Linked DNA regions of Homo sapiens. The protein of the gene in region 3 interacts with the protein of the main gene of each other region in a pairwise test. Each region holds a gene or a part of one and is shown on either strand. Other genes may lie near its edges. The genes, in order: ACOT12, CAMK2B, ACOT7 and POU6F1.

Region 1 (6,959 bases), on a different chromosome or scaffold from region 3:
CAACATATTCACAGGCAGTGGTGGTGACCGCAAAGGGACTCCACTGAGCAGTAATCAATGGCCTGGGATGAAAGTGGGGCCAAACAAATCTGGGGAAGCAGAAAAATTAGATTCTATACACATGGCTTTTGTTCAAACAAAATAAAGCTCTGTACTCCACACAAATGTGGTGGCTGTTAGGTTCTACACCTAATGCTTGACAGAAAGAAGGGGCCACCGGAAGTGCAGGGACAAACAGGAGCAAGGTTATCTTGAGGCTCCAGGTGCTAAGAGGGACAGTCCAAGCAGAAAACCCATTCCCCAAAGTCACTGCCATCCCTAGAGCAGGGTTCAGGGGCAGAGAAGGACAGGAGACCCTCCAGTCAAGAAGTTGGCGGCCAAAAGCTGAGAAAACCCATCCTGGAATTTTTGCTTAGGGGCTCTGAGTTTAAACTTTGAACCACATCCTTATAAATTTGTATTTGAATTTGGAAACACTGACCTGACACCTTTTAAAACATACCAAATGTAGAGAGAGAGTTTGATGGCTAATCAAGTTCATCTCTGTATGAAGTACTTGAACTAGCAAACCCTCTGTCTGGGACATATCTCCCACAATGGAAAGGCTCCCGGCTGCCTCTGCTGTTCAGGACAGTAAGGATTTTGGCTCTCTGCCTTGCCCACATGGCCACGGCACTCACCATTCTGAGTCCTAGTCCAAGCTGACAGCGTCTTCCTGTCCTACTGAGATAAAGCTCCAGCTGAAAGCTTGCTCTTGCTCTGAAATCTGCAGAAGTCCTGGGGAGTTCATCTCCTGGGACCAGCCCTTAGTCAATGAAGGATGCCAGTCAGAGGATAAAAACCCCAGGGTTCATGCCAGTGGGAGGGATGGCTGGGGCTGTTCTTCACAAACTGTAATGTGCCCCTGAATCACCTAGGAATCTTAATAAAATTTAGACTCTAATTCAGTAGGTCTGAGTTGGAGCCTGAAATTCTGCATTTATAATTTTTTCTTTTCTTTTCTTTTCGAGACAGGGTCTCACTGTGTCACTCAGACTGAAGTGCAGTGGCCCAATCATGGCTCACTGCAGCCTCGACCTCCTGGGCTCAAGCAATCCTCCCACCTCAGCCTCCCAAAGTAGCTGGGACCACAGGCATATGCTACCTTTCCTGGCTAATTTTTAAATTTTTTTTTTTTTTTTATAGAGACAAGGTCTCTCTATGTTACTCAGGCTGGTCTCAAACTCCTAGGATGAAGTGATCCTCCTGCCTCAGCATCCCAAAGTGCTGGGATTATAAGCATGAGCCAACACTCCCGGCCTGAGATTCTGCATTTCTAAGAGGATCCTAGGTGAGGCTGAGGCTGCTTACCTGGGGACTACACTTTGATGCCCCTACCAGTGCTTTCTGCAATTTCCTCCCAAATAAACTGTCTGCTCTCAAATTCTTGTCAGAGGCTCTGTTTCTGGAGAAAGCATTTTTTTTTCTACCTCTCTACTTATATTCCAGGTTCCTTGTTCTTAGTTTTCACAAAACCCAGCCACTACCTTACAATGTGACCCAAGGAAATCACTTCATTTCCTCATCTCTAGAATAAGAGTTTAGACTGTCCAGTTCCCCTTCCCACTCCAGCATTTTAAAGATTTTCTCGTTATTCTAGTGATTGTGGAACTTCCCACACTTTTTTGGATCAGCTTTCCTGCTCCTGTGTACAAACTTTTAAAATCAAGCTGGCTTCACATTCTGCTTATCTTCAAAAATGTCTCTAAACACAAATGAAACTCGACCTTTTATTCAAGCATAATAGTAAAAATCTTTGACACCAGAGAGAAATGGAGGTAACAAATGTTCATGCATGCAGATGACATTTTCATTGTAAAAGGAAGAAAGGGACCATTCAGAAAAACACAAGAATAGTAAAATGAAAATTAGTATGAAACCAACAAAAGATATGAAACCATAATCTGAAGACATCTAAACAGGAGATAATAAAGATAAGAAAACACAGCAGTGAATTTGTGTACCATGTCTGCTTTTAAAGCAACATCTCTAGACAAACACACAAATATACACATGCTGTCCCCTTCAAGAAAATCATTTTGGAAACCCATCCTCTTACACTTATGCGTAAACATTTTTGAAATTTCTTCTTCTTTTTCTTTTTTTTTTTTTTTTTTTTTGAGACTCAAGCTCACTGCAACCTCTGCCTTTTTGGCTCAAGTGATCCTCCTGCCTCAGCCTCCTGAGTAGCTGGGACCACAGGGACACACCACCACGCCCAACTAATTCTTGTATTTTTGGTAGAGAGAGGGTTTCACCATGTTGCTCAGGCTGGTCTTGAACTCCTGAGCTCAAGCAATTTACCTAACCTCAGCCTCCCAAAGTGCTGGGATTATAGGCATGAGCCACTGCGCCTGGCCTAAGTTTCTTTAGTTTATAAGAAACCAAGTATACAACCATACACATAATTCAATATCACCACTTTAGTCACCACTTTTTACCCAAAATAATACAACCCAGCCTAAATGCAAACTTTATTTCCAGTAATTTAATAAACTTCCCAAATATTAATACAGTTCACTCATGTAACTGTCAGCTATTGCTGCATAACAGACAACCCCCAAAATCACAGTGGCACACAACAATAAGTAGTTATGTCTCACTCAAGAGTCTTCATGTCTGCTGGGTTGCTCTGCTTCAGGCTGTGAGTCCTCCGGCTGGCTGAGATGCCTCTGCAATACGTGAATTCAGTCTGGTACCCAGATGCTAATAGGCAGCTACTTGACCTCATGGCAGAGGTCAGATGTTCCTGAGAACAGAAACACGGTGCTTCTAAAGGCAAGACTGGTGGTACACTGCTATCTCTCCACATTCCATTCTTAAGCAAGCCACATGGCCAAGTCCAAGGTCAATAAATGACTCTCACAGAGTTATTGGTAGATGGAGTGAATATATGATAATCTATCAATTCCTAAATTATGATTTCTCAATACAGAAGTCATTAAAAAGGCATTTTCCAAGGAGGAGTGCCAAAAGCGATGTAATAACGTTATCATTGAAATAAGTGTATAGCTACATAATGGGACCATCTTGGATGCACAAGTTTTTGTTTGCTTTTAAAAGTTATTTTAATGCCTTTTATATAAGTCAGACTTCATGCTTGCCTCAGTGAAAACATGCAATTCCTATTTATGATTGGATTGTCCTGAAACCTATACACAGAGGCTCCTAAAAGCTATCAAGTCAACATTTCCTTATTTCTTCACTTTCATTTTAAAAAAAATCTTTTAAAAAGGAAAGAAAAATACCAGAATCTCCATTCTGATGTCGCCATGCTGAGGCTTGGCAAGCCAAAAATATAAGGATGAAAAGGCACCACCAATTCGTGAGAGTCGGCTAGGCTTCTTCGTGCTATTCCGGACAGTCAGGAGCCCTGGGTTCCAGCCAGGTGATCGGGTCGCTTATCGGCTCCTATCACCTCAGCTGCTTGCTCCACTTCTCCGGGTTTCCAGTTCTCCATCGTAAATGTGCTCCCTGGAGCAGCCTCCCCTGACAGTCAGACATCCACCAATCCATTAGATGCTGGAGGTTTTCTGGAGACACTGTTTCCCTAATGAGGACTGCTTTGTACAGTCACTGATAGCAGCTCTAGAAAGTGTAACAGCTTTTTTATCTCAAAAGCTGTTCCTCGCGCTCCGGCTCTCGGGGAGCCGCCTTCCAGACCTGTCTACCCGGGAGCCCCCTCCCCGCGCACTTCCCAGACTTCTCCTGAGACCCGAGAGCGCTGGTTTTCCCCCACTCGCGATAGTCCTGGGATGACAGTGCGGGCCCCCTCACTCGCAGCTCCCACCACCTGGCGGCCAGGGGTTCGCGGCCCGGGCGGGCGGCGCCAGTGCCCTCTGGAGCTGGGCGGGGAGGGCGGGGCGGGCGGAGCGGGCATGGTGGGGTGTCGGGGGCCGCAGGCGTAGCGCTCTCGCCCTGGCCATGGAGCGGCCGGCGCCCGGCGAGGTGGTCATGAGCCAAGCCATCCAGCCGGCGCACGCCACTGCGCGCGGCGAGCTGAGCGCGGGGCAGCTGCTCAAGTGGATCGACACCACCGCCTGCCTGGCGGGTAGGCGGGCGCCGGGGCTGCGGGGAGGCGCGGGACCGGGGCTGCGGGAGCGGCGGCGGCTGGGGGCTGGGGGGGGTAGGAAGGCGAGGAAGGTACTTGCGGAGAGCTGAACCCTGCGCAGCCAGGGATAGGGGTGTTGCAACAGTGCGCCCGCGCTGGGCATGGCCGAGACCGGTGGTTCCCAAATGTGTGGCTCTCGGGACTCCTTCATTCCATTAAACAAGTGAGGAGCCCAGAGAGCTTCTGCGGGGTTTTTTGTTTGTTTGTTTGTTGTTGTTGTTGTTGAGCTCTCTCCCGGGCTGGAGAGCGGTGGCGCCATCAGAGGTCGCTGCAGCCTCGACCTCCTGAGCTAAAGCGATCCTCCCACCTCAGCCTCCAGAGTAACTAGGACCACAGACGCACGCCACCAGGCCCAGCTGACTTTGGGAGTTTTGTTTTGTTTTGCTTTTGTAGAGATGGGGTCTCACTATGTTGCCCAGGCTGGTCTCAAACGCCTGGACTCAAGTGATCCTGAAGTGTTGGGAGGCCCCAGCCTCCCAAAGTGTTGGGATTACAGGCATGAGCCACCGCACCCAGGCAGCTTTTGTTTATGTAGGCTATTTATATCACATTTACCGTAATGGAAATTTAAAATTTTTAATTATTTTTAAAAAAGAAATGGACTACATTGTTAGCATAACATTTTTAATTAAGAAATAACTATTTTCCACAAGAACAAAAGTGTAGCGAGAGGAGTGGTGATAAAGGTTACATCCTGGCGAGTCTCTCTAAGGTCTGGCTAGTGGAGGATTGCTGACTACTCATACCTGCTTCTGCATTCACCCTGCTGCTACCACACCCTTATGTAGTCTCTGGAAAACTCCACTGTGTTCTTGTGACAGAATGACAGTAAAAATGGCAAAAACATTTATTAAGGACTGAATTATATCCCCCACACCACCCACCGAAATTTATACACTGAAGTCCTAACCCCTGGTGTGACTCTATTTGGAGTGAAGAATTAAGGCTAATGAGGTCATAAGAGTGGAATCCTGGTCCCATACAATTAATGTCCTTATAAGAAGAGACACTGGAGAGCTTCTCTCTGCCATGTGAGGCCACAGCAGGAAGACAGCCATCCACAGGCCAGGAAGAGAGCCCTCACTAGGACCTACAATGGGCAAGCACCTCGATTTGGAACTTCCCTGCCTCCACAATTGTGAGAAATCAATGATTCGTTTAAGCCTTTTTTTTTTTTAACAGGATTTGAGATTGGTTATATTAACAATGGAAACATGAATACAAAATTAATCCACACATAGGAAAAAAGAATAATACATAAACCACTGAGGTTGCTAATAATAATGATGCCTGTTTCCAAGGCAACTGAATACATTATGAGACCACTGAAGTGACTTTTAGTTACCTTGCTTAGTGCCTCTGTCTTGTGATGGAGAAACAATGGCCCACCTGCAATTGTCATCATTTCTATGACCTGACATCTTTGGAAACCATGGAAAGATCCAATTGACAATCAATTACTCTATACCTTAATAGTTACATTACTATTAGTAGTATAATATTAATAACTGATAATGTTACTAATATTAAGAAAACCTGTATGATAAAGTTGGTTTGGGCAACATGAATAACGCCTGTGTTAAACACTTTATGGTGACCTGAGGCACCACATAAGCAGGGGACATTATTTAGCCAAGGTGTAACTGAATCTGTGTAGTAATATAAAACTGATTTCTCTGGGATTTTCTCAGAGTTTTTTATAGGCCAGCATTATCTCTTTAGCCACATTACTGCAATCCCAGTCATGGCCCCCAAGGCATTTCTATGACCCCTAGGCACTGCTGGATTCCAAAATGTCTTCTCAATATTTAAAGAAAGATGAAATATTCTCACTATCCTTACTTCTGTCAGTGGCCCCATTATTTTTCCAGTCCCTTAAGTCTAAAGTCTTGAAGCTATCTGAGTAATCCTCTATCTCACACGTCCATGTATTATTTTGGAACATCTCACACACACGGTTTTTTATTTGTGAATCTTTTCCAGGGTTTACTATCTCTGGAGTGGCACCCAACTCATCTAGTTGAGCAAGTCAAAAGTCTAGGAGTCATCCTTGATATTTCTCTCTCCACCTTACTTCTCACTTCACATACTCTATGCATGGAGCAAGTCCTATCAGTGTTACCCCCTAAAGGAGTCTCTGAAATCCAAGCACTTTGCTGCACCCCCATTGCGACCATCTACTCCAAGCTATCATCATGTTTCATGCAGACTTCAGCAGTGATTTCCAAACTCATCTCCATTCGTTCTGGTCTCCTCTCCACACTGCTTCTAAAGTAATCTTTGAAGATGCTAATCTGATTGATCATGTCATATGTTTTGTTCATTTTTCCCTTTCTTTTCTTCACCAAGGGCTTTAAGGATTTTTCTAAGATGTTCAAGTGCTTCCTACTAAAAAATCTCCCACAGATAATAATTATAAACTCTGGGCAAAACACTAAATAAAAGAGACTTAAGGCAGGTGAAAAGTGAACAAAAGTAGGCTTATAACACTTGAAAGTTAACACATGAAAGAACAAAGTGGTGTTGGCTTTTTCTGTGTTTGTTTTATAAATGACTTGAAGCCTGAAAGAAAATGCCAGTCTGCTCCCAGCTATAGTTCTGATGGAAAACCCACAGGCTTGCTGGTTTGAAGAGCCCAAAGACAGGGTTTGGGAAAAGCACAGCTACTGAATGAAATACAAAAGGGAAAGTTCCAGAAAGGAAAGAGCCAGAGAGACAGAGCCCTAAAATCTATCTATAATCTTTTCCCAGATATCTGGCAAATCTTGAATCATGTATACATAGGACAGACTCCAAACCTCCTGGTTGA
Region 2 (7,024 bases), on a different chromosome or scaffold from region 3:
CCACCTGGACGCATTAGGCCTGCCTGGACCTGTTGCCTCACCCCAAGAGAGCCACAGGCAATGCAAAGGCTCCTGTTCATGTCAGGGCACCTGGAAGGCCTGACTTGCAGAGGCTCTTGGCTCGTGCAGACCCCTCCAAGCCCAGGCCCTGCCCACCACCTCCCCTTTGTCTCTGGAACTGCCAGGACAGCTTGTCCTCAGCCAGCAGGTTTCCCGACCCGGGCACCTCTTCATGTTGGGCCCCCCTCCTTTCCCTCCATCAGGGATCATGCCCTTCTTCAGGGGCCTGGATATCAAGGACACAAAAGCTCCCATGTGCTATGTGGGGAGGCAGAGTGGGGGCTGGGTTGAGCTGGGGTCTGGGCAGCGCCATTCCGCAGGGCAGGGGCAGCCTAGGCTTCCCATCTGTGGAATGGGTGGGTGGGTCTCACAACGGACCTGCTTCCCGTACTTCAGCACGGTTACCACTCTTGATTGGAACTCTGACCATGCATCTCCTCTTCTGTTTACTTCACGCTTTCTCTTCCCATCAACTCCCATTTTAATTACAATTTGTTTAAAAGCACTGCATATTACTTCATTAAACAGAAGATTAGTTTCACTTACCATTAGTGTAAGGTGACTATAGAACCAAAGCAGACTGGAAACCAAATGACATAATGTCATTCTCTTCTCCATTCCAGCTGCCTGCTGCTGTGCGCCTGAGAACCCCTGTGGAGTGGGAGGGGCAGCTGTCTCTGTACATTAGAAAGGGAGGTTAACTAAGTGACAGGAGGTGTTTGGGACATGTGGACACCAGACTTCTCTCTTGATGCAAGGAGGGCAGAGCCAGGCAGCCTAGTGGGGGCTGGCTTGGGGGCTGCTGGAAGGACTGGCTACAGGTGGAAGAGAGGTCAGACCTGAAGCTTGGGGCCACCTCCAGGAAAGGACAGGTGAAAGTGGAGGCATGAGGCAGGGGAGAGGCAGGTGCCAGGCAGAGGGTGGAGAGGAGGCAGGAACATAGCAGCTGGGGCGGGGGCGGGCCTCAAGTGTCATATGCTACTTTCCTGGGGCCCAGGGGCAAGGACAGGAACAGCCACAGCATGTGTTGGGACAGAGCCCTGTGCCTTCCTAGAGCTGGGCAGGTGGAATGGGGCAGGAATGGGACTCGTGGTGGCTGCAGCAGGAACTGGAGGGGAAGGGGCTTCTGGATCCTGCAGCCTACCTTCCTAGAGGCCAGCTTTCCGGGGTCCACCAGGTGGGTGGGAACTGGGCTTGTGTAGCAAGACTGCCCTGAGGACCATCCATGACATGGTCTAGATGAAAGTTAGGAAAGAAAGGGAGACAAGCTGGCAGCAGAAGTACAGCTGGGTCAGGAGCAAGGGCCTTTCCAGATAGGGACAACCCAAGAGTGCACATGTGCCCACGCCACACAACACAGGCACACACGACACGTGCACGCTCATAGGCACTGCACACACACATGCACAGGTGCTCATGCATATGTATGAGCTTCATCTACACACATTCACATGCCGTCCTGCTTATGTGCATGTTTCCATACATGCACATGAATGCACAATCACGTGTACACACATGCATGTGATCACATACATGAACATGTGTGCACCCCACTCCTCAGGTGCCATCGGGCTCCTCCTGCTGTCACTGTGCAGCAGGGGACATGAGGCCCCAGAGCAGACAGGTGCAGCACAGGCGTTCCCAGGCAGTGCCCCACACACATGCATGAGCACACCCGGGCATGTGGCGCCTCCTTTGTGGACTCAGTCACCTGCCAGGTGGGCTCCCTGGTGGTGTGAGCTCCCAGAGGTCTGGCGAGAGAGATAAAGGCAACCCCACCACCAGGCGTGCTGAGAATTCCCTCTTCTGGCTGGGCACAGTGGCTCATACCTGTAATCCCAGCACTTTGGGAGGCCGAGGTGGGCAGATCACTTGAGGTTAGGAGTTTGAGACCAGCCTGGCCAATATGGTGAAACCTCATCTCCACTAAAAATATACACACACAAAAATTAGCTGGGTGTGGTGGTGTGCACCTGTAGTTCCAGCTACTCGGGAGGCTGAGGCAGGAGAATCGCTTGAACCTGGGAGTCAGAGACTGCAGTGAGCCGAGATCATGTCACTGCACTCCAGCCCGGGTGACAGAGTGAGACTCCATCTAAAAAAAAAAAAGAATTCCCTCCTCTGGGAATTTAGACCACAGACAGGTTGCATGTATGTGGCCGTTGGAGGCAGCACTCACAGCAAAGAGTGGAAACGTCACCACAGGGCCTGCCTTCTGGTGAAAATGGTGTCCTGCAGGGCGGGCAGCTGTTTGAGGGCAGGTGTCCCAGGTGCGGCCTGCAGCAGCCTGAGGGTCACAGAGCGCAGTGCTGGGAGTGCAGAGACTTCCCCCACAGGGAGAGTTCCCAGGAACCTGCTTCCGGTGCACTTCTGGGGGTTTGAGTTTTTTCCACGGACGAATTACTTTGAGAAACCACTGTTACTCGTGTGTATAGGTGAGCGTGCGTGTGCATGTGTGTTCTGTGTGTGAGTGTGCATGTATGTGCGTGCCTGCGTATATATCCTCGCAGATACGGCTAGGGACCTCACTCAGGACAGTAGTTCTGCCTGAGGAGAGTGAATGCGGCAAGATTGAGGAGAACACAGGCATCTTCAAACTACATGTGCGGTGCTTTATTTCTTTAAAAATGCGTCTAAAGCAAATAGGAAAATGTTAAGATTTGAATCCGTAGAGTGTGGGTTCTATTATTCTCTCCACATCTTCCATACGTTTAAAATCTTTTGCAATGAAAATAAGCTGTAGTTAAAGCAGCAATGCAGGCTGCCAGTGAGCGCCCCGGAGGCCAGTGAGGACCAGCATGGCTGGGTGGCCTGTTGGAATCCAAGGGGGGCGGGCAGGAGCTGCAGGCAGGCGCCCGGGAGTAGCCCGGGCATGGGGGTGCGGGGCAACAGGGATGTCTGCAGGGGTAGCATGTGGGCCCCGGACTGCAAGCAGGTGGAGCCAGCCGGATGCGGCTCCTATGAGAAAAGCGGGGAACAAGAGACCACGCTCGTTCTTCCTGCTGCGGGGACAGCCCTGGTCATCGCTCCGGGGAACCCTGCAGCCTGCGCCGCACGTGGCCGCCCCCTGCTGCTTCCTCCTCCCCGGCCTCCGGGTGGCCTTGCTGACGGCTCCTTCTCTGAGGCAGGTCTCTGCCTTCTCGCCTGGTGCCTGCACTCAGTAGCCCCCTCACCAGAGCTGCTGGGTGAAGGAAGCACTAAGAACCCAAGGCTCGGGAGGAGAGTGGGGCCGGGAAGCTGCAGGGAAGCGCAGGGCCAGGCCTGGTGGGCCCAGGGGCTGGCTCACGGGAGGGCAGGAGGGAGACTGTGGCGGACAGCACGTGGGGCCAGGAGGTGACCTCCAAGTGGATTGTGGGTGGGTTTTTTGTCCTCTTTCTGCATTTTCCAGGCATTTTGTAATGTGGATAGAATATTTCTGTTCTTCAAAAATACTTTAGTTAAGAAAAATAAGATGGAAGCTGTTGCACTTGAAAATGAGGAAGCCACTGGTGATGCAGGGGGGGCGGCGGAGAGGACCTCTTCTGCAAATAGCGGCAGGAACACGGCATGGATGCAGCTCGCGCTCCCCCAGGCCCTCCCCTGGGCTGTGTGGAGGGGTCCGGGGGGAATGGGCCAGCGCCCAGTGGTCACCTGGCCATGTCTCCCCACAGCCCGGAAGCAGGAGATCATTAAGACCACGGAGCAGCTCATCGAGGCCGTCAACAACGGTGACTTTGAGGCCTACGCGTGAGTCCCTGGGGCTGGGGGGGGGCTGTGCAGGACAAGGATGTGGGACCCTTGGGGGGGCCTGCTCAGAGTCAGGGGTCCACGGGGCCCCTCCTCACTTGGATTTGGCCCCCAGGAAAATCTGTGACCCAGGGCTGACCTCGTTTGAGCCTGAAGCACTGGGCAACCTGGTTGAAGGGATGGACTTCCACAGATTCTACTTCGAGAACCGTGAGTGAGGAAGCCCGGGTGGGCATGAGGGGGCGGTGCCCCCAGGAGAGCCTCTCGGCCCCTCCCAGGGACAGCATGGTGGCTGCCTATGGAAGCCCTGTCCCCTCTGTGCCCAGGGTTGGCCAGCCACCTCTCCCCCGCCAGAGGCCATACCCAGCCCCCAGAATCCCACTCTTGGAGGGGCCCATGCTGCTCCCAGGAGAGCCGAGCCTCCCCAATAAGGGGAGTTGAGAGAGGGAAAGGATTAGGCTGGTGGGGTGGAAGACGGGCACCAGGGCAGTCATGGTAACCCGAGACCCCCGCCCCGCCTGCTGTCCACAGTGCTGGCCAAGAACAGCAAGCCGATCCACACGACCATCCTGAACCCACACGTGCACGTCATTGGAGAGGATGCCGCCTGCATCGCTTACATCCGGCTCACGCAGTACATTGACGGGCAGGGCCGGCCCCGCACCAGCCAGTCTGAGGAGACCCGCGTGTGGCACCGCCGCGACGGCAAGTGGCAGAACGTGCACTTCCACTGCTCGGGCGCGCCTGTGGCCCCGCTGCAGTGAAGGTGAGTGTTCTGTGCTAAGTGACAGCTGGGGCAGAGGGGTGGCGGTGGTGTGAGTGGCTGCAGCCTGGGGAGGCGATGGGGAGCGGTGGGGCCTGTGCAGAGCCATGCCTGGGAAGTCCCTGAGCTTTCCTGGTGAGGCCACAGGAATGATGTCAAATTAGGGACCACGGCAGGCTGGGTGTGGCAGGCCTCCCCAGAGGACTGGGGAGCTGGTGAGGGCCTGAGCAGTCCACACTGGCCAGAGCTGGGTGGGTTGCAGGTGGATGGGCCCCGGGCAGCACAGTCCTGGGCACCATGCCCTGTTTGTGAGGACTGTTAGAGCCCCAGATGGGCGTTCCCCAGGTGGTGGGTGCAGCGGGCCCAGAGCCCAGTTTTACAGGGATAGTAGTAATTGGGTTGGGCACCTTGAACCTCTCTCCCGAGTGGGCCCTTTTCTGGACTTTAACCCTCTCTGCAGTGCCGCATGGCAGACAGCAGAGCCTGGGGGTGGATGGGAGAGGGGGCTGCTGAGGAGCTGACCCACCCGCCCCATTTCAGAGCTGCGCCCTGGTTTCGCCGGACAGAGTTGGTGTTTGGAGCCCGACTGCCCTCGGGCACACGGCCTGCCTGTCGCATGTTTGTGTCTGCCTCGTTCCCTCCCCTGGTGCCTGTGTCTGCAGAAAAACAAGACCAGATGTGATTTGTTAAAAAAAAACAAAAAAAAAAAAAAAAAAAACAAGATGACGACGACAACCACAAAAAAAATTGACATCAGATGAAATGAAAAAAAAAAAAAACAAAAAAAACTAAAGGAAGGAAAAAGCTGTAAAAATCACTGGCATTCGTGGGGCCACTCCCCACCCAAGCTCCACGTGTGTCCGTCTGTGCTCCTGGCCTCTGGGGGACCAGCTGGGACATGAACTTGTCTGCCAGGCCCCCGTCGCGTGCTGAACGGTGTTAGTTTGTAGGTAACGCACACACCCCACACCTAAGGTGTCTGCATCCTCCTGCCAACGCATGGGCTCCACGTGGTGTGCTCGCTGGCTGTCGTGACTGTCAGCTGTCTCTTGGGAGGGGCTGTGGGGGCCCGCTGGGCTGCCTCCTTTCCCGCTAGTTGTGCCTGAGAGTTGCTGTTGTTCCTGCTTTCCCTTCCCTTCCTTTCATCCCCTGAAGGGCTAGGTGTGGGTTTTCCGTGCCCGGTATCCCCACACACCCAGCACGGACAACCCTTCGGCAGAGCCCAGGCCGGCCCCTCACCCCCTGGAGTATTGAAACTGGAGTCCCGTCCCCAAGGCCTTCAGAGATGCCCCTACACACCCAGGGCTCCAGCTCTGGTCCTTCTGGGGGAGTAAAGTGCAAAGAGGGGCACAGCTTAGTTTTGGGCCTCTCGCCGAGCAAGAGACAGCACTGCTGGCTACAGCTCCAACACAGCCAGCTGTGGCAAGAGGACTCTGCCTGGGCTGGCCCCCCTCCTGTGTGAGGTGTCTGTCCCTTCTCTGCTGGCCAGCAGCAGATGCACTGGCAGCTCCCAACCCTGTTTCCGCCCCTCGGCCCTCCCCCAGCCTGTTCGGCTTCTCTGCAGCCCGCAAGGGGGAGCAGACTTTTGACAAAGGACTGCGGGCCTCGCTCAAGTCCCTGAGCCCCCAGCTGAAGCTGGGAGGGGAGGCCAGGCTTTGTGTCTGGGCATATTCGTCTGCTGATGGGGTTTGGGGAAGCCTGGGGCTTGGGGTTTGGTCGGGTGGTGCAGCTAGTGGCAGAGCGGGATCAGAGGTGGTGGCTGCCCAGCTTCTGGGCTGAGACAAGGGTCTGTGCAGGGGTTTACTGAAGTGGGAGTGCCTTTGGAATCTGGGCCGGGAGCAGAAGGGAGCAAAAGCTACAGTGGGAGCCAGCCTAGGGCACATGGGAGGCGTGAGGGCAGTGCTGCCCGTGCAGTGTCAGGTGTGCCAGTGCCTTGGCGGGCTGCAGTGCGTGTGAGGGCACCTTCTAGGTGGGCCAGGGATGCAGCTATGGAGATAAGGCGGGCTGGGGACAGAAACAGGTGGGCACAGGGCCCAGGACACCAGCGGATGGAGGGCAGGGTCTAGCCCTGTGCTCCTGAGCGTCGGCTGCCTGGGTTCGAGGCGGTGGGTCCCCGGCCCCTTGTGATGGTGTGTACCATGGGGGAGCTCGGGGACAGGGCAAGCCCGAGCATGGTGGGGCTGCAGGGTGGGTCTGAAGCCAGGTTGGGTGGGGGTGGTCACAAGCCCTGACTGCAGAGGGTCAGGGGCTCCTGCCCCAGTGCCTGCCCACTTTCAATTCACATTGTTTTCAACAAGGATTTTCTTTATCTTCCCCTACAAATCAAGCCAAGGGAGGGGCACAGAATGGGGAACAGGACACAGGATCCTAAACTCCAAGGGGACTGTCCACCGATGAACACTCAGAGTGGACACCATCTTCCGTCCACGCTGTGCCCAGGACAGCTGTCCCCATCCATGAACACAGGGTAAACAT
Region 3 (7,024 bases):
CCTGGTGAGGGTGTTTATGACTCTCCACAATGATCTCATTATTTGAGACTTCCGGCTGCTTTCTGCTGGAGGCTGGTGCAGTCCTGGGTGGGTGTGGAGGAGGAGGTAATTAACCCAGGCCTGCAGCTGCTGGGAGAGGCCACAGCGGATGGCGGAGAGGCCACAGCGGATGGCGGACAGGCTCCGCTAAGGCAAGGTCCTCAGGTGGAGCAAGACCCTGGGGGCACAGGTGCTTGTGAGGCTGGTGGTCCTGGTGCTAAGCTCATCATTGCTGGCTTCTCCATGCACAAGGCCCCTCGCCCGGCCGTGCTGAGTGTCCTCAATAATGAGATGTTTTCATTGCTTTTGTGATTATCCCAAGACCCCTCTTGTCTCCTGTTATAACAGGGAGAGGGCATGCTACGTGGCTTCCTAATTAAGAAGGTCTGTGTCCCTCAGGCTTACAGGAAGTTGTTATATCACCACTGGAAACCCTTTTTACGCCATTCATTAATTACAAAAAGGACAAGCTATTGATTTTACCGAGGGTGGAACTTAGTCACTCGTCCTCCATACCATGTTCCAAATGTGTGTTCTCCAAGCACAGAAAATGCAAAGTGGAAAACATTTGGTTTGCAGCACTTGGCTCTGAAAGCCACAGGCTTCCCCTCCAGTGGAAGAGAGCCCAGAAGACAGCAGTGGCAGGAAGCACTAAGTGGAGGGAGGAAAAAGATGCAGACCCCAGGCCCAGGCAGCCACTAGGCTGCAGGGGAGCCAGGGGCTTGGTGCTGAGTGCCAGGCGGTGCTCCCTGAGCACCAGGGAGGGAGCGTACTGTCAACCTGCTACCTTGGGACCCTCCCCACCCCTGCGTCCCCATGTGTGGGTGTGACATCCTAAAGGGCCCGCTGCGTTAAGGTGACCCCGGGCCATCTGGCCCTCCTTTGGGGCAGCCACACACCAGCAGGACAGTCCTTGGAGCAGTTCCCAGGCTGCACTTGGCCTCAGGTATTTCTGAGGACAGCAGGACCACCACACAGACACACACACATGCACCAGGGACCGCAGACACATGTGCACACACACGTAGGAGCTCACGTGCACCGGCACCATAGGAAGCACTTTGCCATGTCACTTTGTTGAGTTCCTGTTTCCAGGTGAACAAACCTGGCCCTGGGCCACACAGCTGGGCCCGTGGGACTCAGAGTCCTGCTCCTGGCCATGCTGCCCCATCCCTTCCATCAGGCAGGTGCCCGGGATACATGGGGGTCATGTGCCCTGAGCTGCCCTTTGCCACCTCATCCTTTCTCTCTGGCATATTCTTGGGGAGCCCCAGAGGCTCGGAGGAGCCTGCCTGAGGCCACAGGTGGGTGCCCGGCAGCTGGCACCACTGGCCAGTGCCCCAGAGGCTCCAGTCCTTCCCCCACCAGCAGCCTCGGGGACTTGAGAGAGACATCTGTCTTCCCGCAGAGCGTTCTTTCGTCCTCCACCCACCCCCAACCCTCCATTAAAAACAGCAACAGCCAACAGCGTATGCATTTATTTACTTTGCTGGGTGGAGGGAGATGGCTGCGAGGAGGCAGCAGCCGGGCCGTGGGTGGGGCCTTGTGCTGGAGACATCTGTCTTGCTCTGTCAGCTTCTCACCCAGCGGGACAGGGTGGCCCCTTTGTCACTTGGGTAGGAGAACTATTTAGCAAAGCCATGACCTGGGGAGGCTGGCTGCCCACCAGCAGTGAGCCCGTAACCTACCATGGGACAGACACCGCCCCGCGGCCCTTTGTTCCACCTCCCCCTGGGTGGTGAGCCTGGGTCCTCAGGCACCTGGGACATCCCTGCCCTTGACTGCCATCTTCATAAACCTTCACCCTGGAAGGGCGCCCCTGGGCACTCAGGGAGGAAGGCCGCCCGCACCTTGGGAGGGCAGCGCTTATGGGCGGGCACTCCACGCAGTGACGTTGAGGCTCCTGGGCTGGTCTGGACTCTGTCTCAGAGCCTGGAACATCCAGCAGATACTACCATCCCGGGAGACGGGAAGAGCAGTGGGGCCCTCACAGGCTCTCAGGCTCCCACACATCCATCCATCATCAGACAGCATTTGCTTTGTCTGAGGGCAGAGCCTGGCTGATGAGTTTGCTGCAAATATTAAAGAGCAGGGCCACATCAGAGCCGCCTTGGGGCCCGTTGCTGGGCACCAGATTCTCCCTCAGCCTGGAGCCGACCCTGAGAATGACCTGCACCTGGGCTCGTGCCCGCCTCAGGCTGTGTATTAACTGACCTCGAGAGAAGCAGTCACAGCCCTCGGCCTGTGGCATTGGGAATGCTCGATGGCCTGGTGGCCGCTGGGGTGGGAGCAGCTGTAGTGGTTTGGGATAATATGGCTGAGGGCAGGGCAGGGCCCCCGCCTGGGGGAGGCCAAGCTCAGCAAGTGCTCCTAGGCTGTGCCGAGGGCCGGGGTGAGGTGAGGGGAGGCAGGGAAGCCCCTGACCCTGGTTCATCGTGGACACGCTGCAGGTCCATCGCCTTCCTCACTTCCCATGGACGAGTCCCACCCCTAAAAGTCCCTCGGCATAGGACGACCTGGAGGGCAGCCCCCATGCCCAGGTTTAAATGGAGGCTCTCCCCTTACCCGCTGTGTCACTTTGGGCAAGTTACTCAGCCTGTCTGTGCTTCACTTCCTCATTGGTAAAAGTGGACAATCATTTCTGTGCTGCTTGGTGGGGTTGTTGGGAAGACCCTGATGTGCACAGCCTGCCGCGCCCTAAGCATGGGTTGCGCAGGGAATATCCCCTTATCGCTGTAGTCCCTGCCCCACGTGCACAGCCCATGTGGGGGCAAAGGGGTGGGAGGGCTCTCGTCTGCAGTGCCTTCTGCAGACCCAGAGTTGGGTGGTCCTCCCACGCCCTCGGCGGCTGGAGGGCTGTGGTCACATCTCTGGTAAAGATGCCGAGAGCTGTAGGAAGTTACTCCTATTCCACTCCCAGGTGGTCATGGAGGCCAGATCGTTAGGGGACTCGAGGGCTCCGCTCCACTGCTGCGTGTGGCTGGCAGAGGTGAGGACCGGGCTGTATGAAGCCCTGGAGGTTTTCTCGCTCTTGGGCGGAGATCTCCCTGCCGTTCGGGCCGTGCCGCGTGCGTGGGGCCTGGGGCCCATCACACACCTATGAACTGGACCAGAAGGAGCATGGTCCTGAGTTAGCTCTTAGCGCCTCTTGGCGGGGAGTGGGGAAAATCGCGCCTGTGCACAGCCCAGACGGCTCCCTCAGCTCTGCCCGCAGCCCACCGCTTGTAAAGCCAAGTCCCCGTCTCTTTGGGGCCTGGAGATCATTGGTGCCTAGGGAAGAAAGGAGGGGCTGGTTTTCCTAGATCTAGGTCTAGTTAGTTTTTTGCTTTTCTAGCTTTTTAATTATAGAAAAGGTCAAATATACGCAAAAGTAAAGAGAAGAAAGAATTCCTGTGTAGTTATTAGCTCAGGGCCAGTCTTATGCGTTGACAGCCCTGACTACTCCCCCACCACAGAGAGCTCTCAACTGTGGAGGTTTTCTCTTTTAACAGCTTTACTGAGATGTAATTACATGCCGTTCTGTTCACCCACTTCCAGGATACGATTCAGCAGGTTTTCTTCTATTCACAGAGGTGGACATCCCCCGCCACAGTCTATTTCAAAACCTTTTATCTCACCAAAAAGAAGCACCACCCCTTAGCCACCACTGGTCCCCCAGCCCCAGGCAACCGCCAATCCACTTTCTGCCTCTGTGTATATGTCTCTCCTGGACATCTCGTGTAAATGGGTGATAGGCAGACCCTGTGACCGGCTTCTTTCACTGTGTTGTTTTTAATGCCTGGTTGAACATGGGCTGCAGGGAGAAATTTGGTCCCCGCAACTCTGCTGTGAGGTGGACATTGGCCCATTTTACAAAAGAGGAGTCGATGTGAGTCAGTGGTGAATCAGGATTCACACCCGGCTCCAGGGTTGAAGATGCTGGGCTGGTTTCCAGGCGGAATGAAGAGACCATCCCAGGAAGGGCACACAGCATGGTTGGGTCCCAAGGTGGGCAAGCCTCTGCCTGAAGCAGCCCATCCCAGAGGCGGGGCAGAGCTTGGTTCCTTATGAAAGGGATCCCTGGCCAGCTCAGTTTGAGAAAGGCGAAAGTTAAACAGATTTGAGACGTTTCAGAACCTTCATCCCAGTGTGCATTGTTTATTGTAAGAGGCCATTTAGTGCATAGATCCCCAAACCTGCCTGGTACAGACCATCAGAGAGGCATCATCTCCCAGTGGAGTTGGGGAGGGAGCCCAGAGGATCTGCAGACACAGACAGGCAGGCAGGCAGGCAGGCAGGCATCTCCTGACCTGGCAGCCCTTCCTCAGCCCCTCTCCAGGGCCCTGGCCTTGGACGGGCCATTCCCACCAGCCCCCCAGGACACCCATGGTAACAGCTCCTAAGCTGGTGGCGTTGGCTCCGCAGAGCCATTTGCCACCTCTCTTGGCCCCTCCTGGTCCTCTGGTACCTGAGAGCATGTGGCTGGGGACTCAGGCACTTGGGGACCAAGTTTCTCGCCAGTCTCCCACATCTGCACATTCCCAGGAAGTTGCCTCTCCTCAGGCCGGACCTGGCTCCTGTGGGCTGGGTGGGGGCTTCAGCTGTGTCCCTTCTCACTCCAGCTGCCTTTCCTGGGCCAGGCTCGCTCTCTCCTGCTTTCAAGGATTCTTTTTCTTTCCAAGCTCCTTGCCGTCTTTCCTCTCTGTGGAGGGCAGATACTCCACCAGCTAGAGGGAGGACCCGAGCCGAGGGGCCAGGCTTTCAGACTGGGAGGCGCCTGAGTGCGATCCAGCCTGCCCGTCCCCAGCTCTCCTGCTCCCAACCCGATGTCTCCCAGGGCTGCCACAGCCACTCCAAAGCCAGCAGAACCCAGTACCAACCCCACCAGGTCCTGTTGCCTTGTCGCCCAGCTCTGGGACCCCATGCCCACCCTACAGCTCTTGCTCTGCCTGCTACAGGGTCTTCAAGGTAGGCAGGAAGCCAGGCTGTGGGCGGCCGCTCCTCTGCTGAGCCTCGGCCTTGCCGCTGCAGGCAGACAAGAAGCTGCAGCTTCCCTCCACATCACCAAGCAATTCCACAGGGGAAGGGGAGGACAAGGCCCCTATATCCCATCCTGGTGGCTTTGACCTTGCATTCTTGGCCACTTCAGATGTGCCCCATTTGGGGCAGCGGCAGATGGAAAGGGGGCAGGGCCCTGCTACACAGATGTGGTCCGCGGGCCACAGCGTTGTGTCACCTGGGATCCTGTTAGAAGTGAGTCTCAGCTCCCAGACCCACTGGATCAGAATCTGCATTTACAAGACTGGCAGATGACTCAGATGCACTTAAAAGTTCAAGAAGCCCTGATCTAGCACATTCTGCCTCAGTGTGCACAGAGGTCTTCAGCTGTGCCCAGCAGGATGTAGCCATGTATGTCTTCAGGGGAGCTTGTCATCTGCAGGGGCTGCGCTCTGTGCCCTCCAAGCCCAGGAAGCTCAGGGGTCTTGCCCACTGAGAAGTGCTGCTGGAACTGAGAAAGAACATTTCATTTTCCCTGGACTGTTTCAGGTCAAATTGCATAGCCTCAAATTTTATTTTTAAAAGTCAGCCAGAGATCAAACCGTAGCAGCGGGAGGGACTTCTTCAATAAAGTGTCTTGGAAAAGCAGTTTTCCTGTGTACACCGAAGACTCTTCAAAGGGGGACCAGGACCGCTGCAAGGAGCGCCACCTATTTCTTTAAATACCCGAAGATTCCATTGGCTCCAGGCCGGCGAGGTTTTGACAGTTTACACCTGGTGACATTTAGAGACTGATTTTGGAGAGAGCTGAGGGGAGGAGGCATTTGGTATAACTTGACATTACATCCTCTGGCTGACTGCGCTCTCTCTTGCCAATATACCATTTGTCTATGAAACACTTAGGCCCAAAAATAGCTGTACAGTTTGGTGTCATTGTGGATGAAATGAAGGGCAACTGCCCCATCTCTTTGGCTTTCAGACACCCTCAAAATGTTGCGATGAAATGTCCCAGAGGAATTAGCACAGCTCATTAAACCTGAATTCCCAGCCAGGGTGGGGCCAGTCAGAACATGGCGTTGGGACAGATGGGACATCAGAAGTGACCACCTAATACTCCAGGGGTGGCACCTGCCCAGGGGCCACAAGACAGAGTGAAAGGGGGTGCCGTTCATAATCGCAGCCCGTCGACAGGCATGAACCAGGACCGTCCTGGGCAGAACCCCGTCTTGGGCCAAATCCCACCTGTTCAGTTGGCTCTGCCCCCAGACCAATGAGATGGGGTCCCTGGGGTCCAAGGTGCCGCCTCCTGAGTGTACGGTCCAGAGCGTGGTGACAGGGCTCCCTCCCAACAAAGCAGGCCTATTGCTCCCAGTACGGGGCGGGGCCTTCTCAAGGCCATAGGCAGCACAGCATCTGCCCACTTCTCGCTGGGGCAATGGCCGTGTGCAGCTGGCTTTCCCCACTTCTCTCCGGGGCGGTGACCGTGTGCAGCTGGCTTTCCCCACGTCTCTCTGGGGCAGTGACCGTGTGCAGCTGGCTTTCCCCACTTCTCTGCGGGGTGGTGACTGTGTGCAGCTTTCCTGGGAGTGCAGCGAATGCAGGGTCCCTCTTCCTTTCCACTTCCGTTCAGCTCCCATGTTTCATTATCAAGTGCATTTTCCACCGAAGTCCAGTAGCAAACAGGCCCTGGGCTTGGAGGTCACCTGCTGTGAAAGGTGGTGAGAGGATGTCACAGGGCTCGGCACTTCACTGACTGCTTCTGACCCGCCATGCCCTTAGTGTCTCCTCTATGGAGCTCTGCCACCTGTGGCTCCTGCGGCCCCTCAAAGCATCTTGGCTGAACATACCCAGCCCAGTCAATAGGCCCATCAGCGAGGTGGGACATGAGCCCCATGCCTGGGCTACCCGGCAGTCCCAGGAGGCCAGCGGGGCCGAGGCGTGGTACTCAGCATGCACCAGGGGTGGGGCAGATCCCACGGGTGGGGGGCAGGGCCCCAGGCCAGGTCAC
Region 4 (7,388 bases), on a different chromosome or scaffold from region 3:
CTTATCATCATATCCCTGGTGCCTAAGATAATATCTGGTATATAACTAGGTTCATGAATATGGGCTGAAAACAATTGAAGATACGAGGTCACGTCATAGCCACATCACTTAGCCTCTTATTATTTCCTACCTTTTCCCTCAAAACACACACCCTACTTCAAATGTTTTGCCTCCATTTCCAGTACTGGGGCTACTTAAAAATGATTTCAAAGACGTGGTACAGGCCGGGTGTGGTGGTTCACGTCTGTAATCCTAGCACTTTGGGAGGCCGAGGCGGGCGGATTACTTGAGGTCAGAAGTTCAAGACCAGCTTGGCCAACATGGTGAAACCCCGTCTCTACTGAAAATACAAAAATTAGCCAGGCATGGTGGTGTGCGCCTATAGTTCCAGCTAGTTGGGAGGCCGAGGTGGGAGAATTGCTTGAACCCGGGAGGTGGAGGTTGCAGTGAGACCAAGATCGCGCCACTGCACTCCAGACTGAGCGACAGAGTGAAACCCTGTCTCAAAAAAAAAAAAAAAAAAAAAAGAGAGATTTCCAAGGTGTAGTATTGGGTTCTGGAGAACCCAGACCACACTGGCCCCTTCCTAAAGCGCCCGTCTAATTTCTCATTCCAAGCCTTCCTCCTGTGGCCAGTTTCTCCTGCATCCCACTCTCTCTTCTGCCTCATGAACCCTCATTTTGACATGAGGGGTCAAAGGCAGGTTTAAAGGCAGAAGACCCAGCTTGAGTACTGCTTCTACTAGAGGTAATCCCTATAAGCCTCCGTTTCCTTATCCAAAATGGAACCAAATTATAGTAACCACCTCATGGGTTATTGTGAGGATTAAATTGATAATATTTATGGAAGGCACTTAAAACAGGGCCTAGCATGAAGCAAACACTATATATATGTTTGTTATTATCATTGCTATTATTTTGAACTGAAGTAAAGCATGCATATAAAAATGTTTTAAATTATAAAGCATTTTAAAAATGTAAAAGATGGCCAGGCACGGTGGCTCACGCCTGTAATCCCAGCACTTTGGGAGGCCAAGACGGTTGGATTGCCTGAGCTAAGGAGTTCGAGACCAGCCTGGGCAACACGGTGAAACCCCATCTCTACTAAGATACAAAAAAATCAGCTAGACTCTGTCTCAAAAAAAAGAAAATGTAAAAGATTACTCTGATAATTTTATGGTGAGTAAATCTTGGGGACAAGAATATGAGCTTATCCCAAGTTCCTTCAAAATGCAGAAAAACCTTACAGGAGCAAATTTTTTCTGAGTCACTTTTCTTAACTGCCAGCTAGTACTTCCAGGAACAAAACAGAATAAATGGCTACATACACACACACTGACACACAATCACTCTATGGTATTACCTTGTTAGTTTTAATGTTTAGCATCTACTTGTCCACCCCCAGAATAAAAACTCCATGATAGAAGTTTTGTCTGAATTGTTCAGAGCATGGCACTGAGTGGGTATTTTTGTTGAACTAATGAAGAAATGAAGTTCTACAGCAGATAAGCGGAGTACCAGGTCACAGAAGTATCACTTTGAGGACCAGGACTTGAATGAAAATGGAATATATGGAATTATTCCTCAGAAGGCCTCTGCCAGTCAATGGTGGCTGCCTTAGATTGCTAAATAAGGGGCATGGGACACATGTATATGAACAATTGAAGACCAGCCCTCTACTTTTGGAACAAGGAATTTGGGAAGGGCAGATGAGGTTAAAAATCTCTGCAAAGAGCCTCTTTTCTTTGGCCCAGGAATGCTTCCCGAACTCTTCTGATTTCCCCCTGCCCAGCCGCAGAGGCTATTCTGTGAAGGTTTTAGGCTTCCAGTCGGGCTGAGTGGGGTATTCTGCCGCGAAAGTGGAGGTTAGAGGGTATGCTGGGAGCTCCCTTGGCCTTGCCAGGTGAGCCTGCCCAGGGAGCCTGCATCGGGCCCATTATTATGACTATTTATTAATAATAATATCGATATTAAATATTTATGAAGTGCTCATGCTCTGCTAGAAGGTGGCCCTCCCATCACTGACCCACCCTTCCAGCAACGCCTGGGTCCCTACCCCCGGGTCCCACCGGTCGTCCCGGAGTTTGTTCATTCGGGAGAACCGTGACAGGTCACCCTGGCCGCCCCAGCTGGCCCTAACCGCCGGGAACCCAGGCGTCCGTGTTCTCCAGAGAGGCAAGGATCCGCTTCTGGTCGCCACTGGTTCTGTGTACAGAGCGTCCCCTGTGGTCCGCACCCCACAAGGGCTCCAGGGGCAGAAACGGGGAGGGGCCAGGTCGGGGTTCCCCACCGGGTCCACCTGGCGGCCGCCCCCTCCGCTCCAGGTCCAGAGCGGCCCGCGGGCGGGCGAGGGCGCGGCCCCCGGGTGTCTAGCCCCAGCTGGGCAACCGCGCGCTGTCCCGCTCCCGCAGCTCCCCGCCGCCCCGGCCCAGCATCCCGCCGCCCCGGCCCCGCGGCTTTTTTTCTCTTTATCATAAATATATAAATTATGCTAATTACGGGCATTGCATATTAACCAAACCCGAAACCTCCCCTGCCCGGCCCCCTCCCCCTCCGTGCAAACCCCTCCCCGCCCCGGACCCCGCTACTTACCGGAGCCCGAGCCCGAGCCGCCTTCGCCGCGGGTGTCTGGCGGCCACCGATTAGAGATTCATCTCACAGCCCGGGCCAGGGGGCCGGGGCCGGGGCCGGGGCCACGGCGGCCGCCGCCCGCAGACAAAGAAGCCAGTGCGGCTTGGCTGGGCTCGGCTCGGCCCGGGAGCTGGTCGGGACCCGCCGCCGCCCCCAGGCCCCCAGCCTGGGCTGGGCAGAGCCGAAGGGGGCTCCGCAGGCTAAGCCGGGCGGAGAGGGGACGGCCGGGAAGCGGGAAGGGGAAGCCGGGTGGGGGGGCGGTCAGGTATATATTTTTCTTCGTTCCCCCTTCCACGACCCCCCCCTTTTCCCTCCCCCCCTTTTTTCCCTCCTTCTGCTACTTGGATTTTTTTAGCTGCTGCGTCATGAGCATAATTTATGCAAAGAGCTTTGCCGCATGCTGCACCGCCCGCGCCAGCCGCCGGGGGCGGCGGGCTGGGAGGGCGGTCAGGGAAGGGAGGGGAGCACGGGAGCCAGGAGCGAGGGGTGGGGGTGGGGAGGGGACCCTCTGGCCCTGGCCGAGCGGGAGGTCCCGGAGGCTCTCTCCCGGGACAGGGATGGACGGTCAGTGGGTCTGGTTACTCAGCCCCTCCGAGGTGCCGCGGAGGTGGTTTCATTTCGGAAGGTGCCAGAGTAGGAGCTGGAGTCCGGACCCTCCATGCCACATGGCCTTCAGCTGAGGGTTGGGGCGGTGACTCCCGGCCACCGCCTTTCCTCTAGGTAGTCAACTGTCCTCAATGTTGAAAGTCAAGTTTATGTCTATCCCTCCCTCCCTAGAAAGGCGGGGGAACTCAGACATCGCTCAGCCAACGTGGAGAACCTCTGAACAGCTGTGCCCCAGCGCCAAAGCAGCGAAGGGTCCCAGGTCTCTCACCCGGTGGCGGCCGTGGGCTGTGTTGTCTAAAAGCAGATTTCCGGCCTTCTTGTCCAAGTAGACAAGGAAATGTGAACAGAAAGACAAAGTTCAGTGGAATGGTGAAAAACCTCTAGCAGCTTCTTAAGGTAGAGAGGGGACCAGAAAAGGGGTGGATGTGGGTGGCTGAGGGAAAGCAGATTGGAGAAGTGGTGGACAACTGAAAGAGGAAAAAGTTGGAAGACCAAAGTGGAAGCGTGGGAATGGAGAGAAGAACTGGGAAGGAAGGAGGCTCTGTAAATCCAGTGAATGTGGATCCCAATACTGAGGCCACCTGCTGTCATCCTAGGCTGTTCCCCCTCCCACCCTCTCCCGATATTTGGTGGTCTGAGGATAGCTAGAGGTAGATGGGTTAGAGGCAGTGTGAGAATGCAGTTGGAGGCCTCAGTCCTCCCCGGGACTGCTCCGTAAGGCCTCGTGGTGGAAGGGCATTGAATGGCCCGGCCTCGTCGTTAACCTGGCCAGTGGACTAGGCTGTTATCAGCTTGCTGTTTCCATCTGGAAGTGAGCAGGTACTGCTGGCGGCGGATTTATGAGTAACCAATGTATTAGGAGTCAGAATACTTAGGTTTTAGTCCCAACTCTTCCACTAGCCGTCCAGGCAAGTAATTTAACTTCTTCATTACTTATAAAACAAGGATAATATTTATAATGACATTTATAATGACTACTTCATAGGGTTAAGTTTGTGAGCCTGTATGTGAAAAAACTGAAAGCTGCAAGCTCTATACAACTGTAAGGTGTCATTCCTTGTACAATAGTTTGAACTCGTTTTAATGGCCCTGTGAAACTCTACTGCGTGGCTTGATATTACAGTTCTTGGGGTTTTTGTTTGGCCGGTAGTCCCTGTAGTTTCTCTCCCTGGACTGTGAATTCTTTGAGAGCACTGGTTGTGACTTACTCATGTTTGTATTTCCCACTACTCTTTATGTGAAGGAGGGGCTCAGTATTGCTGCTGAACTTTGTCACATGAAGGTTGAAACTTTTCATTTATGTCACTTGGTTTGGTGCTACACATAGATCAAAGGCTTTGGATAGCATGGATATCAGCGACAGTTTGAAGAAAGAAATATGGATGTGATCAGAGGAGTTCAGGGAGACATACATAAAAATGTTAATCACGGTTTTCTTTATGTTGTATACACTTCTGCATTGCTTAAATATTTGATGAGCATATATTACTTTTTGTTTCTGTGTTTATTGGGGCATAACATGTACACAGTATGTGTATACCTTGATAAATTTTTACATGTATATACATATGTACGTGTATGTATGTGTGTATACATATGTACGTGTATGTATGTGTGTATACATATGTACGTGTATGTATGTGTGTGTATACATATGTACGTGTATGTGTGTGTATACATATGTACGTGTATGTGTGTATACATATGTACGTGTATATGTGTGTATACATATGTACGTGTATATGTGTGTATACATATGTACGTGTATATGTGTGTGTACATATGTACGTGTATGTGTGTGTATACATATGTACGTGTGTGTGTATACATATATACACGTGTATAGATACGTGTATACATATATACATGTCTATATATACATGTATATACTCACACACATATATATATCCATGTAATCCCCACCCAAAACAAGATATAGAGCCTTTCCAAGACCTGAGGATTCCCTTATGTACCTTCACCGGCCATAAATTCCCAAAGTAACCATTATTCTGATTTCTGTCACCATAGATTGATTACTTGAGCTGATTCTTGAACTTCTCATAAATGGAATCAGACAATATGCAATCTTTTGTGTTTGGCTTCTGTCACTCAACAAAATTTTTTTTTTTGAGACGGAGTCTTGCTCTGTCGCCCAGGCTGGAGTGCAGTGGTGTGATCTCGGCTCACTGCAACCTCCGCCTCTCGGGTTCAAGTGGTTCTCCTGCCTCAGCCTCCCAAGTAGCTGGGACTGCAGGTGCGTGCCATCACGCCCAGCTAATTTTTTTTTTCTTTTTTTTTTCGAGATGGAGTCTCGCTCTGTCGCCCAGGCTGGAGTGCAATGGTGTGATCTCAGCTCACTGCAACCTCCACCTCCTAGGTTCGAGTGATTCTCCTGCCTCAGCCTCCTGAGTAGCTGGGATTACAAGCACACGCCACCATGCCCGGCTAATTTTTGTATTTTTAGTAGAGATGGGGTTTCACCATGTTGGTCAGGCTGGTCTTGAACTCCTGACCTCATGATCCGCCCACCTCAGCCTCCTAAAGTGCTGGGATTACAGGCATGAGCCACCACGCTCCCAGCTAATTTTTTATACTTTTGGTAGACACAGGGTTTCACCATGTTGGCCAGGCTGGTCTCGAACTCCTGACCTCAAGTCATCCGCCCTCCTCGGCCTCCCAAAGTGCTGGGATTACAGGTGTCGGCCACCACACCCGGCCTCAATATATGTTTTTGAGATTCATCCATGTTGTTGAATGTAGAAGTATTTTTTATTGCTGTGTAGTATTCCATTGCATAATTATACTACAATTTATCCATTCCATTATTGATGGGCATTTGCTTGTTGTTTGGGCCTCTTAGGAATAAAACTGCTATGAGCATTCTTGTACAAGTATTTTGGTGAACATATGCACTTATTTCTTCCAGGTAAATACTGAGGAGTAGAATAGCTATTCTATTTTATTTAGCTTTTGTCCATACTGCTAAATAGTTTTCTATAGTGTTTGAACCAATTTATATCTTTATCAGCAATGCATGAGAGAGTTCTAATTGTTTTACATCCTCACCAGTATGTGGTATTGGTAGTCTTCTTGCAATGAAAGTTTATTACTTTTTGGCTGGGCGCTGTGGCTCATGCCTATAATCCCAGCACTTTGGGAGGCTGAGGCGGGTGGATCGCCTGAGGTCAGGAGTTCGAGAGCAGCCTGGCCAACATGGTGAAACCCCGTCTCTACTAAAAATATAAAAACTAGCCGGGCGTGGTGGTGGGCTCCTGTAATCCCAGCTACTCGGGAGGCTGAGGCAGGAGAATTGCTTGAACCCAGGAGACGGAGGTTACAGTGAGCCGACACGGTGCCACTGCACTCCAGCCTCAGTGACAGAGTGAGACTCCGTCTCAAAAACAAAAAACAAAGTATATTACTTAAAAAATTTTTTTTTCTTTTTTTGCCTGGGCATGCCAAAGACCGCACCTGGCTTTTGTTGTTGTTGTTGTTGAGACAGAGTCTCACTCTTTAGCCCAGGATGGAGTGCAGTGGCACGATCTCCACTCACTGCAACCTCTGCCTCCTGGGTTCAAGCGATTCTCCTGCCTCAGCCTCCCAAGTAGCTGGGATTGCAGGCATGTGCCACCGTGCCCAGCTAATTTTTGTATTTTTAGTAGAGACAGGGTTTCACCATGTTGGCCAGGCTGATGTCAAACTTCTGACATCAGGTGATCCGCCTGCCTCCACCTCCCAAATTGCTAGGATTACAGGTGTGAGCCGCCACGCCTGGCCTAATATTTTATTATTTTTATTTTAAAATTTTACTTTTTTTTGAGACAGAGTCTTGCTCTGTCACCCAGGCTGGAGTGCAGTGATGAGACCTTGGCTCACTGCAACCTCCACTTCCCGGGTTCAAGCTATTCTCCTGTCTCAGCCTCTCGAGTAGCTAGGATTACGGGCATGCACCACGATGCCCGGCTAATTTTTGTATTTTTAGTAGAGATGAGTCTTCACCATGTTGGCCAGGCTGGTTTTGAACTCCTGACCTCAGGTGATCCACCTGCTTCGGCCTCCCAAAGTGCTGGGATTACAGGCGTGAGCCACTGCACCCGACCTATAGTATTTTGTTATAACAGCCCAAACGGACTAAGACCCATCGATACTGAT

What was found.
Region 1: the proteins of ACOT7 (region 3) and ACOT12 interact in binary tests that used the Homo sapiens proteins (3 or more experiments, as listed by UniProt).
Region 2: the proteins of ACOT7 (region 3) and CAMK2B interact in binary tests that used the Homo sapiens proteins (3 or more experiments, as listed by UniProt).
Region 4: the proteins of ACOT7 (region 3) and POU6F1 interact in binary tests that used the Homo sapiens proteins (3 or more experiments, as listed by UniProt).

Annotation. Positions count from the first base shown.
Region 1 is NC_000005.10:81,391,119-81,398,077, reverse strand, and holds the start of ACOT12 (acetyl-coenzyme A thioesterase), read left to right. Parts: upstream 1-3,943; 5' UTR 3,944-3,963; coding exon 3,964-4,090; intron 4,091-6,959. UniProt on the Homo sapiens protein: Catalyzes the hydrolysis of acyl-CoAs into free fatty acids and coenzyme A (CoASH), regulating their respective intracellular levels. Preferentially hydrolyzes acetyl-CoA.
Region 2 is NC_000007.14:44,217,588-44,224,611, reverse strand, and holds part of CAMK2B (calcium/calmodulin-dependent protein kinase type II subunit beta), read left to right. Parts: intron 1-3,710; coding exon 3,711-3,786; coding exon of another isoform or gene 3,787-3,790; intron 3,791-3,901; coding exon 3,902-3,996; intron 3,997-4,317; coding exon 4,318-4,550; 3' UTR 4,551-4,552; intron 4,553-5,089; 3' UTR 5,090-7,024. UniProt on the Homo sapiens protein: Calcium/calmodulin-dependent protein kinase that functions autonomously after Ca(2+)/calmodulin-binding and autophosphorylation, and is involved in dendritic spine and synapse formation, neuronal plasticity and regulation of sarcoplasmic reticulum Ca(2+) transport in skeletal muscle.
Region 3 is NC_000001.11:6,264,757-6,271,780, reverse strand, and holds part of ACOT7 (cytosolic acyl coenzyme A thioester hydrolase), read left to right. Parts: intron 1-7,024. UniProt on the Homo sapiens protein: Catalyzes the hydrolysis of acyl-CoAs into free fatty acids and coenzyme A (CoASH), regulating their respective intracellular levels.
Region 4 is NC_000012.12:51,215,051-51,222,438, forward strand, and holds the start of POU6F1 (POU domain, class 6, transcription factor 1), read right to left. Parts: upstream 3,013-7,388; 5' UTR 2,592-3,012; intron 2,256-2,591; exon of another isoform or gene 2,056-2,255; intron 1-2,055. UniProt on the Homo sapiens protein: Transcription factor that binds preferentially to a variant of the octamer motif (5'-ATGATAAT-3').